Regions from separate parts of the Homo sapiens genome. Here region 1 is linked to region 2. The links come from fine-mapping of genetic effects on gene expression. A gene starts in region 2. The other region holds a variant in brackets. All regions are shown on one strand. Distances are between the middles of the regions.

Region 1 (4,382 bases), 32 kb after region 2:
GATCTCCATTTCAGATGAGGAAACGGGCTCAGCTGTGTTGAGTGACCTACTGTTAGGTTTGGTGCAAAAGAGATTGCGTTTTTTGCCATTGAAAGTAATGGCAAGCCGGGTGTGGGGGCTCACGCCTGTAATCCCAGCACTTTGGGAGGCCAAGGCGGGTGGATCACCTGAGGTCAGTTGTTCGAGACTAGCCTGGCCAACGTGGTGAAACCCCGTCTCTACTAAAAATATAAAAATTAGCTGGGCGTGGTGGTGGGTGCCTGTAATCCCAGCTGCTCAGGAGGCTGAGGCAGGAGAATTGCCTGAACCCAGGAGACGGAGGTTGCAGTGAGCCAACATGGTGCCACTGCACTCCAGCCTGGGCGACAGAGTGAGACTCCATTAAAAAAAAAAAAAAAAAGAATGGCAAAAACCACAATTACTTTTGCACCAAACCTAATAGCTTTGTGGCCCGTGGGTATGGCTGGCTTCTGAGGTTGCAGTTCTTGTACCTGCTGGCTTGGGAAAAGGAGGGCGCTGAGCCCTAAGAGATGCATTACTAAGACATAATGCATTTCTGCAAAGCATCATTCTACCCTGAATTTGGTGGGCGTGAACTAAGGAGGAGGCTCTATTTCAGAGTAGAATGCTGGATGATGTGTTGGATGATGCTGGATCAGCCATTGTGAGTCCTCTTCATTCTTATCTTTTTTTTTTTTTTTTAATAAGACAGGGTCATGCTCTGTTGCTCAGGCTGGAGTGCAGTGGCCCAACAATAGCTCACTGCAGCCTCGACCTCCTGGGCTCAAGGGATCCTCCCACCTCAGCATCCTGAGTAGCTAGGACTACAGACATGCACCACCACACCTGGCTAACTTTTTTTTTCTTTCTTTTTAGAGACAGGGTCTCACTTTGTCACCCAGACTGGAGGGGAGTGATGCGATCACAGCTCACTGCAACCTTGACCTCCCAGGTTCAAGTGGTCTTCCCACCTCAGCCTCCGGAGTAGCTGGGACTACAGGCATACACCACTATGTCTGGCTACTTTTTTTATTTTTTGTAGAGACAGGGGTCTTACTATGTTGCCCAGGCTGGTCTCAAACTCCTGGGCTGAAGCAATGCTGCATCAGCTTCCTAAAACATTGGGATTACAGGCATGAGCCATCATGCCTGGCTATACGTATTCTTTTAGGATAAAAAAGAGTTCCAGGAGACTCCCTTTTTGCAGGAGACTCCCTGGAGGTGGAATCTGCTGTTGGGATTCTCAGCTGGGAGAGGGGTGGAGGCTGCACTCTGCTGGGCTGCTGGTTGTTTTTTTGTTTTGTTTTGTTTTGTTTGAGATGGAGTTTTGCTCTTGTTACCCAGGCTGGAGTGCAGTGGCGCAATCTCGGCTCACTGCAACCTCCGTCTCCCGGGTTCAAGTGATTCTCTTGCCTCAGCCTCCCAAGTAGCTGGGACTACAGGTGCCCACCACCAAGCCCAGCTAACTTTTGTGTTTTTAGTAGAGACCAGGTTTCACCGTGTTGGTCAGGCTGGTCACGATCTCCTGACCTCGGGTGATCCACCTGCCTCGGCCTCCCAAAGTGCTGGAATTACAGGTGAGAGCCACCACTCCAGCCCTGGGCTGCATTTCTTGGCCCAGTCTTGGCCCAGTGGGATGGTCTTCCTGTTAAAGCCACGGAGGGCATCTTCCCTGTGAAGGGAGAGCTTGATGGCTCCCAGGATGTCAGTTACCCCATTGGATCCACTCCCACCCCCTGGGAGGTGAGAAGGGTAGGAGTTATATTGCCCAGTTTACAGATGAGAAAACTGAAGCCCTGGAACATCAAGTGTGATTTGCCCAAGGCCTCAGTATCACAACTCGCAGAGTCCGACAGCATGTTATAGACCCACACCAGAGTGTGGCACGGAACAGGAAGAGCCAGAGTTCCTGAAAGTCAGGAGGTTTGTGTAACGCCTCTGCTGTAGACAAGGGCTGACCGCTCTCAAAGTCCGGGGCAGCTTCAAGGGAGCATTTTGAGGGAGGCCTGTGGCCTAACAAACTGTGCACTTACATCAGAGGTTTCCAGGGCCCCCTCCCCCCACTATGTGGGGGCCACATAGACCTTGGGTTAATTGCAGGATCCTGTGAGCTTTGGTGTCTCTGTGTCTGGGATCCCCACCCCCAGGGGTGCTGTGAAGGCAGGTAGGCTTCCCTGCTTGATAGGGTAGCAAAGGCCTGTGGGTAGGACTTCTGCATTTTCTCTTATTAGCAAGGAAGAAAGGCTTCTGGAAAGAATGAAAGAAATCTTCACGAAAGGAAGCCGGGAATGAGAAAGCTGCAGCAGAGGCGGATCTCCAACAGAACACAAGTTTCCATAAGCGGGGGG[T/GT]GGAAGAAAGAATTGGACTCAGAGGAGACCAAAGAATGGCATTTGTTGGGTGCTTCTTCTGTACCAGGCATTATGCTTTGCATCCTTTAGTGTCACAGTGACTCTGAGGTTTTATTCTTTTCCTTTTTATAGATGAGGAAACGGGCTTAGGGAGATTTAAACACTTGCCAGAGGTCACACGGCTAGTAAATGATGGAGTGGGGATTTGAACAGAACACATCTCAGCCATCATCGGTGGCATGAGCGGATCCATTGGGAGAGTTTCCAGTTCCAGTAGTGCAGGGAGTCAGGCCACAGCGGTGATGCTTTGGGGGCCCAGCGGCCATCTGTGGACCAGGAGAGCTAGTGGGGAAACCTGGGGTGGTGGCAGACAGGCTCTAGAGCCTGCAGATCTGTGTTCCTGCCTCTACCGCTTCCTGACTGTGTAACCTGGGATCTGTTACTTCACCTCCCTGGGCCTCAGTATCCATGTATGTAAAATGACACTTCTCCAAGGGTTGAGAGGAGTACATGATATGGACATCAAGCAGCGTGTACAGGGCGGGCTCAGTGCAAGTCCCCAGAGGGTGGGCAGCGTCAGTTTCAGTCCTTGCCCTCTTCCTTGGGCTTGTGTAATTTGATAATTGAAGTTTGTCTGTGTCACCATAGACTTGGCACAGCTCGTGGCCAGGGCAGGGGCTGTTCCTCTTTGCACCCAGGGTCAGTGCCCATGAATGCTTCATGGGCAAAGAAGAACAAGAGTGGGGCAGGGGGGTCAGGCAGCTGCTGGGCTGCTTGGGGATGAGTGGGGTGAAATACCACCTGGCCTCAAAGTGACCTGCACATTAGGACAACTGTGATCCTTTCTCCTTCAGTACATGAGTCCTCTGTATGAGCAACACAGGCCCAGAGTCTGCACTACAGGGAACAATCATCGTAGCTAACACTTCTATGGCTATGAACCAGGCAGTGTTCTGAACATTTGACACATATTCCCTACTTAAGCTTCACAACATTCGCTTGAAATGGGTACTGTTATCATCATCCCCATTTTACAGTTGGCTAATAAATGACAGAGCCGGGATTTGAAATTAAAGAACAGAGAGGTTAAGTGACTTACTGAAGGTCACACAGCTAATAAGTATTAAAGGTAGGATTCAAACCCAGATAGTTTGGCTCCTAGGCCATACTTTTAACCTCTGTGGTGTACAGCTTCTTGGGGAACAAGCAGCAAGAATCTGATCTTGGTATGAAACCAAGGATTTAACAATTATCCTAATAATGGCACATGTGGGCACAGCACTACACAGTTTAAAAAGCACATACAGCCAGGTGGGATTACAGGATCACACTTTTAATCCCAGCACTTTGGGAGGCTGAGGCGTGCGGATCACTTGAGGTTGGGAATTCAAGACCAGCCTGGCCAACACGGCGAAACCCCATCTCTACAAAAAAATACATAACCTAGCTGAGCGTAGTGGTGCATGCCTATAGTCCCAGCTACTCAGGAGGCTGAGGTAGGAGGATCTCTTGAGGCTCAGAGGTTGGGGCTGCAGTGAGCCATGATCATGCCACTGCACTCCAGCCTGAGCAACAGAGTGAAACCCTGTGTCAGAAAAATTAAAATAGGCCAGGTGCAGTGGCTCACACCTATAATCCCTGCACTTTGGAAGGCTGAGATGGGCAAATTGCTGGAGCTCAAGAGTTTGAGACCAACCTGAGCAACATGGTGAAACCCCATCTCCACCAAAAATACAAAAAATTAGCCAGGTGTAGCGGTGTGCACCTGTGGTCCTAGCTCCTCAGGAGGCTGAGACAGGAGGATCACTTGAGCCCAGGAGGCAGAGGTTGCAGTGAGCCAAGATCACGCCACTGCATTCCAGCTTGGGCAAAACAGTGAGACCCTGTCTCAAAAAACTAAATACATAAAATAAATAAAAATTTAAAAAATAAAATAAAAATAAAAACCACATACTACTATATAACTTGCTTTCATGGTTGTGATTTACTCAGTTCTCTAACTTCTCTATGAAGAAGATAGGGCTTTATTGGCTT
Region 2 (4,382 bases):
TAGTAGAGATGGGGTTTTGCCATGTTGGCTAGGTTGATCTTGAACTCCTGACCTTAAGTGATCCGCCTGCCTTGGCCTCCCAGAGTCCTGGGATTATAGCGTAAGCCACAGCGCCCGGCCCCCTGCATGTTCTTGACTTCACGCTCTGCTGTGTTGCCATCTTGAAATTCTTAATTTTTTTTTTTTTTTTAGATGGAGTTTTGCTCTTGTTGCCCCAGGCTGGAGTGCAGTGGGGTGATCTCAGCTCACCACAACCTCTGCCTCCTGGGTTCAAGCAATTCTCCCACTTCAGCCTCCTGAGTAGCTGCGAATTACAGGCATGTGCCACCACACCTATCTAATTATTTTTTGTATTTTTAGTAGAGACAGGGTTTTTCCATGTTGGTCAGGCTGGTCTCGAACGCCTGACCTTGTCATCTGGCCAGGCCTCCCAAGTGCTGGGATTATAGGCATGAGCCACTGCGTCTGGCCGAAATTCTTAATTTTTTAACAAGAAGTGCTGCATCTTCATTTTGTGCTGGGCCCCCCAAACTATGTAGCCAGTCCTGGAAGAAAACAGTGACACATTTATTTGCATGCTTACTATGTGAGCAGCAAACAAGTGACAGTGCTGGAACCGGGACCCAGGCCGTTTGGGTCCAAAACCACGGGTCCTAACCTACATCTTACCATACTTCCTGTCTCTCGAATCAAGAGGGCTAGTGAGAGTGGAGAGGAAGGGAAAGAATAAGAACCTTCTGTTTCTTCCACCAGAACACTCTTCACTCCCCTGCCTCTCCTTCCTTCCTATTGTCGTCTCAGTATCAGTTTCGTTTCCTCAAAGAGGTGTTTCCTGGTCCCCAAACCTAAATTATGCCCCTCTCATTCTCTCTTTTCTCCCTTAGTATTTTATTTATTATTTATTTATTTTGACAGAGTTTCGCTTTTGTCGCCTAGGCTAAAGTGCAATAGCATGGTCTTGGCTCACTGCAACCTCCACCTCCCGGGTTCAAGCGATTCTCCTGCCTCAACCTCCTGAGTAGCTGGGATTACAGGTGCCTGATACCATCCCTGCCTAATTTTTGTATTTTTAGTAGAGATGGGGTTTCACCACGTTGGCCAGGCTGGTCTCGAACTCCTGAACTCAGGTGATCCACTCACTTTTGGGAGGCCGATCTCCACTCAGGTGGAGGTTGCAGTGAGCTGATTCAGCCTCCCAAAGTGCTGAAATTACAGGTGTGAGCCACCGTGCCACGTTTCTTCTTTAATATTCTTTAGAGTATTCATCAGAACTTTGCGTATTTATTTGTATATTTCCTTGTTTTAATGACAATCCCTCACTAGACTGTGTGCTCAATGAGGGCAGAGATTTTGTCGGGTTTTGTTCCCTTATCCCCAGCAGAGAACCTGGCACATAGTGGGTATTTCATAAATGTTAGTTGGAAAGTACAGTTTATAGAATGTAGTGACAGATCAGATGTAATTGTAGGGAAGCCTGGAGGATGACCTAGGAAATTCCACTTGGGTGATGCTAATTGCCAAGGTGAATATAGGAAGTTAGGAGTGGGACAGGAATGATTATGTGGATTTGAGATGTGTCCAGTTCGAGGGCTTTTGGGGGTGGCTTGGAGAAGGCAATCTTCTGCTGGGAAACTTCTGACTCTGTCCCTACTGCAGCCCAGGGTAGGGGCTCCCTACCTCCACCTGGGCAGATCTCTGCCATCACCCATCTCACTGGCGTGCTCTTGGGAGCCTATCTGTTCCCTGGGCGGTGCAGCTCTACGGGATTTGGAACAGTGTTGCAGGTCTCATCTCTGGCTCGCAGGGCCCCCAGGGGTGTGTATGCAGTCAGGGCTCAATAAATGCCAGTAGACGGAAAGAAGGAAGGCGAAAAATGTGGCCAGACACTCAGGGGAGAGGCTGGGGTGAGGAGCAGATCTGGGAACGTAAATAGAACTAGAAGTCCAAGTTGGAACCCTGGAGCCCTAGAGACAGGGTGGACAAAAAAGTGTTCCAAGCCAGGAGGCCAGGCACAGGGCTAAGCGCTTTATTCACATGACTGCATTTCATCTTCATATCTACACTAAAGAGGCATAATTATTCCTACTTTGTTCATGAGAAAACAGGTCCAGAGAGGTGACGTGATTTGCCCAAGGTCACACAGCGAGTGAGCAGCAAAGTCTGGATTTGACTCAGGGCTGTTGTCCCCTAAGCCCGCACGCACTCTTCCACTTCACTCCCTGCCTCTCCAACCCTCCACCTCCCTATCCCTCTCCCCTCCCCTCCGGCGGCTCCCCCGCCCCACCCCTCTGCCGTTCCCCCCAACTCCCTCCCTGTCGGTGGCGGCGGCGGAGCCACGTGGTGGGGCCGGGAAGCCGCGGCCGACGAGAGCCCGGGCGACTGCCCCAGCTGGGCAGTGCTGCTCTGCGCTGCGCCGCGCTCGGGGCTCGCTCTCCTTGCTCCGCGCTCCCCGCCAGCCGCCCCGGGGCAGGAGGCGCGCCTGACGGACGGCCCGCTAGACAAAGGAGGCGCGGCTCGGCGGGGCCAGCGCGCGGACGGACGGACCATGGACTCGGAGCGCGGGCGGCCGGCCCCAGCCTTGGGGACCGGACACTCCCGGGCCCGGCCCTAGGCGCCCGGCCCCGCCGCCCGGCGCGCCCAGCGGGGAGGACGTGGAGCCCGCGCGGCGCGAGCAGGCGGCGGCCGCGGAGCAAGAAGGGCGCCGCGGCGTGCGGCCCGCGCAGCCCCCGGAGCCATGGGCAAGTGCAGCGGGCGCTGCACGCTGGTCGCCTTCTGCTGCCTGCAGCTGGTAAGCGTCGCGTGCCCAGGCAGTCGGGGCAGGGTGGGGCGCGGCGGGGCGCGGTCCCAGGGCGTGCGGGTGGGGTTGCGTGTGTCTCTGTGTGTGTGTCTGGTGCGTGTGCCCGGGCGGGGGGTGGTCTGGAGTCTCGGAGCGGTCGGGCGGAGCCTGCTCCCGCTGGCCGGGCTGTCTCTTTGTGTGCGCTTCTCGCTGCTGTGCCCGGCGCTCCTCCGGTCCCCAAGTGCGTCCTGTGCGCGAGTCCCCGGCCCGCCCGCACTGTACAAGTGGCCTCCTGTTGGGGGATGCGCTGTGGGACGGTGGCTTGCTGGGACTGGGGGTGTGTCTGAGGCTGATCTGTGGATCCGTTGAGGTCCTGCTGTGTGTTTCCCTCTAGATCCCTCGTTTGCATGGGTCTCTCCCTTCCTCTGGGTCTCTGCCTCTGATCACCACCCCTGTGTGAGCGTTTCTCACAAAGTCTCTGCTCCGGCGTGTGTCTCTCAGGGTTTCTCTTTGGTGTGTCTCTAAATCGCTGACCATTTCTGGCCCATGTTCATCTGTGTTCTGGGATCTTAGACTCCAAGAACCCTCCAATCCTTTGTGTTGTTTCTGCCTCCCTTCACCTTCCTGACCGGGCAGTCCTGGGAAAGGAGAGCCACCTCCCTGGAGAGGGTCACCAGGAGCTGCCAGATCCTGGGCCAGCCTGACCCAGCCTGGACCACACTTCCTGCTTTGGTCTGGCCGCTGTGGCCATGGGGGTTCCATCAGTCATCAGTTCCACCCACCAGAGCAGCTCCTCTGCCGGGGCCAGCAACAGTGGGGATGGGGACACTTGGGTGCCCTAGGGAGGACCAGAGCATCTGAGGACACTGTGCCTAGCCCCAGCATAGGGAACTCAGGTTCTTGTCTCAGGGAGGAGTGACTGTAGTGGACTAGAAGAAACAGCACTGCCCTTCAAATCAGGCCCTGGCAGGGGAATTTGGGAGGGTGGTTAAGGAGAGGCAGGGGTCTCCTACCTACCCTAGAGCTGAGATTGAACAACTAGGGAGGTTGAAGCTGTGCTTCTCCTCTAGGCAGAGGTGCATGGGGACCTCCATCGCCGAACCCAGGTCTGAGAGTGGGCAGCGAGGAGCCTGAGCCCCCCTCATGCTGGACTCCTTGTTCTGGGTTTCCACTCTTGCCTGCATCCATCACGCCCTCCCCACCACAGGAGCCAATGATAATGTAGAGTGAAGTTTTGAGCCTGGACATGCAGACCTCCTCATTCGTCTTGCTTCTCTCCTCCTGGGGACACCAGCTTCAAACATGCCATCCACAGACCTGGCCTGGGCAGTGGTGGAAACAGCCCTAGCTCTGGAGATTGTAGCCCTGCTCCCAGCTGTGGGAGACTGGACAAGTGACTTCCCCCCACTGGCCGGCCTCAGTCTTCTTATCTGTAAAATGATTATCCCTGAGGATTGCAGAGGGAATTAATTAAGATCAGGTGGAATGGGAACTCCAGAAGGGCAGAGATTGTCTGTTTTTCTTTATCTACTTTGAGGAACATGAAATGCCAAGAAATGTTTAAACCTTTCAGAGGATTCTTCTGTGTTTGTTAATTTTTTAATTT

Which allele goes with the higher level. Positions count from the first base shown, and alleles are read on the strand shown. Sizes are in standard deviations (SD) of each study's normalised expression.
For the expression in nucleus accumbens of the gene that starts at base 2,395 in region 2, allele T in region 1 goes with a lower level than allele GT (large effect, 0.78 SD a copy in GTEx).

Evidence for each region. PIP is the estimated chance that this variant, and not a neighbour inherited with it, causes the effect.
Region 1: its variant is the best candidate, but not a certain one, in a credible set for the expression of NKAIN1 in nucleus accumbens (GTEx, PIP 0.62).

What each region holds. Positions count from the first base shown.
Region 1 is chr1:31,206,310-31,210,691 of GRCh38, reverse strand. All of the region lies in intron 1 of NKAIN1 (sodium/potassium transporting ATPase interacting 1), which reads left to right. Among named protein-coding and RNA genes, the nearest start is that of NKAIN1, 31 kb to the left of the region's middle. The variant T/GT (reference allele first, on the strand shown) is at 2,349.
Region 2 is chr1:31,237,900-31,242,281 of GRCh38, reverse strand. It overlaps NKAIN1 (sodium/potassium transporting ATPase interacting 1), which reads left to right and starts at 2,395. Exons shown (of 7, transcript NM_024522.3): 1 at 2,395-2,788. The coding sequence starts at 2,735.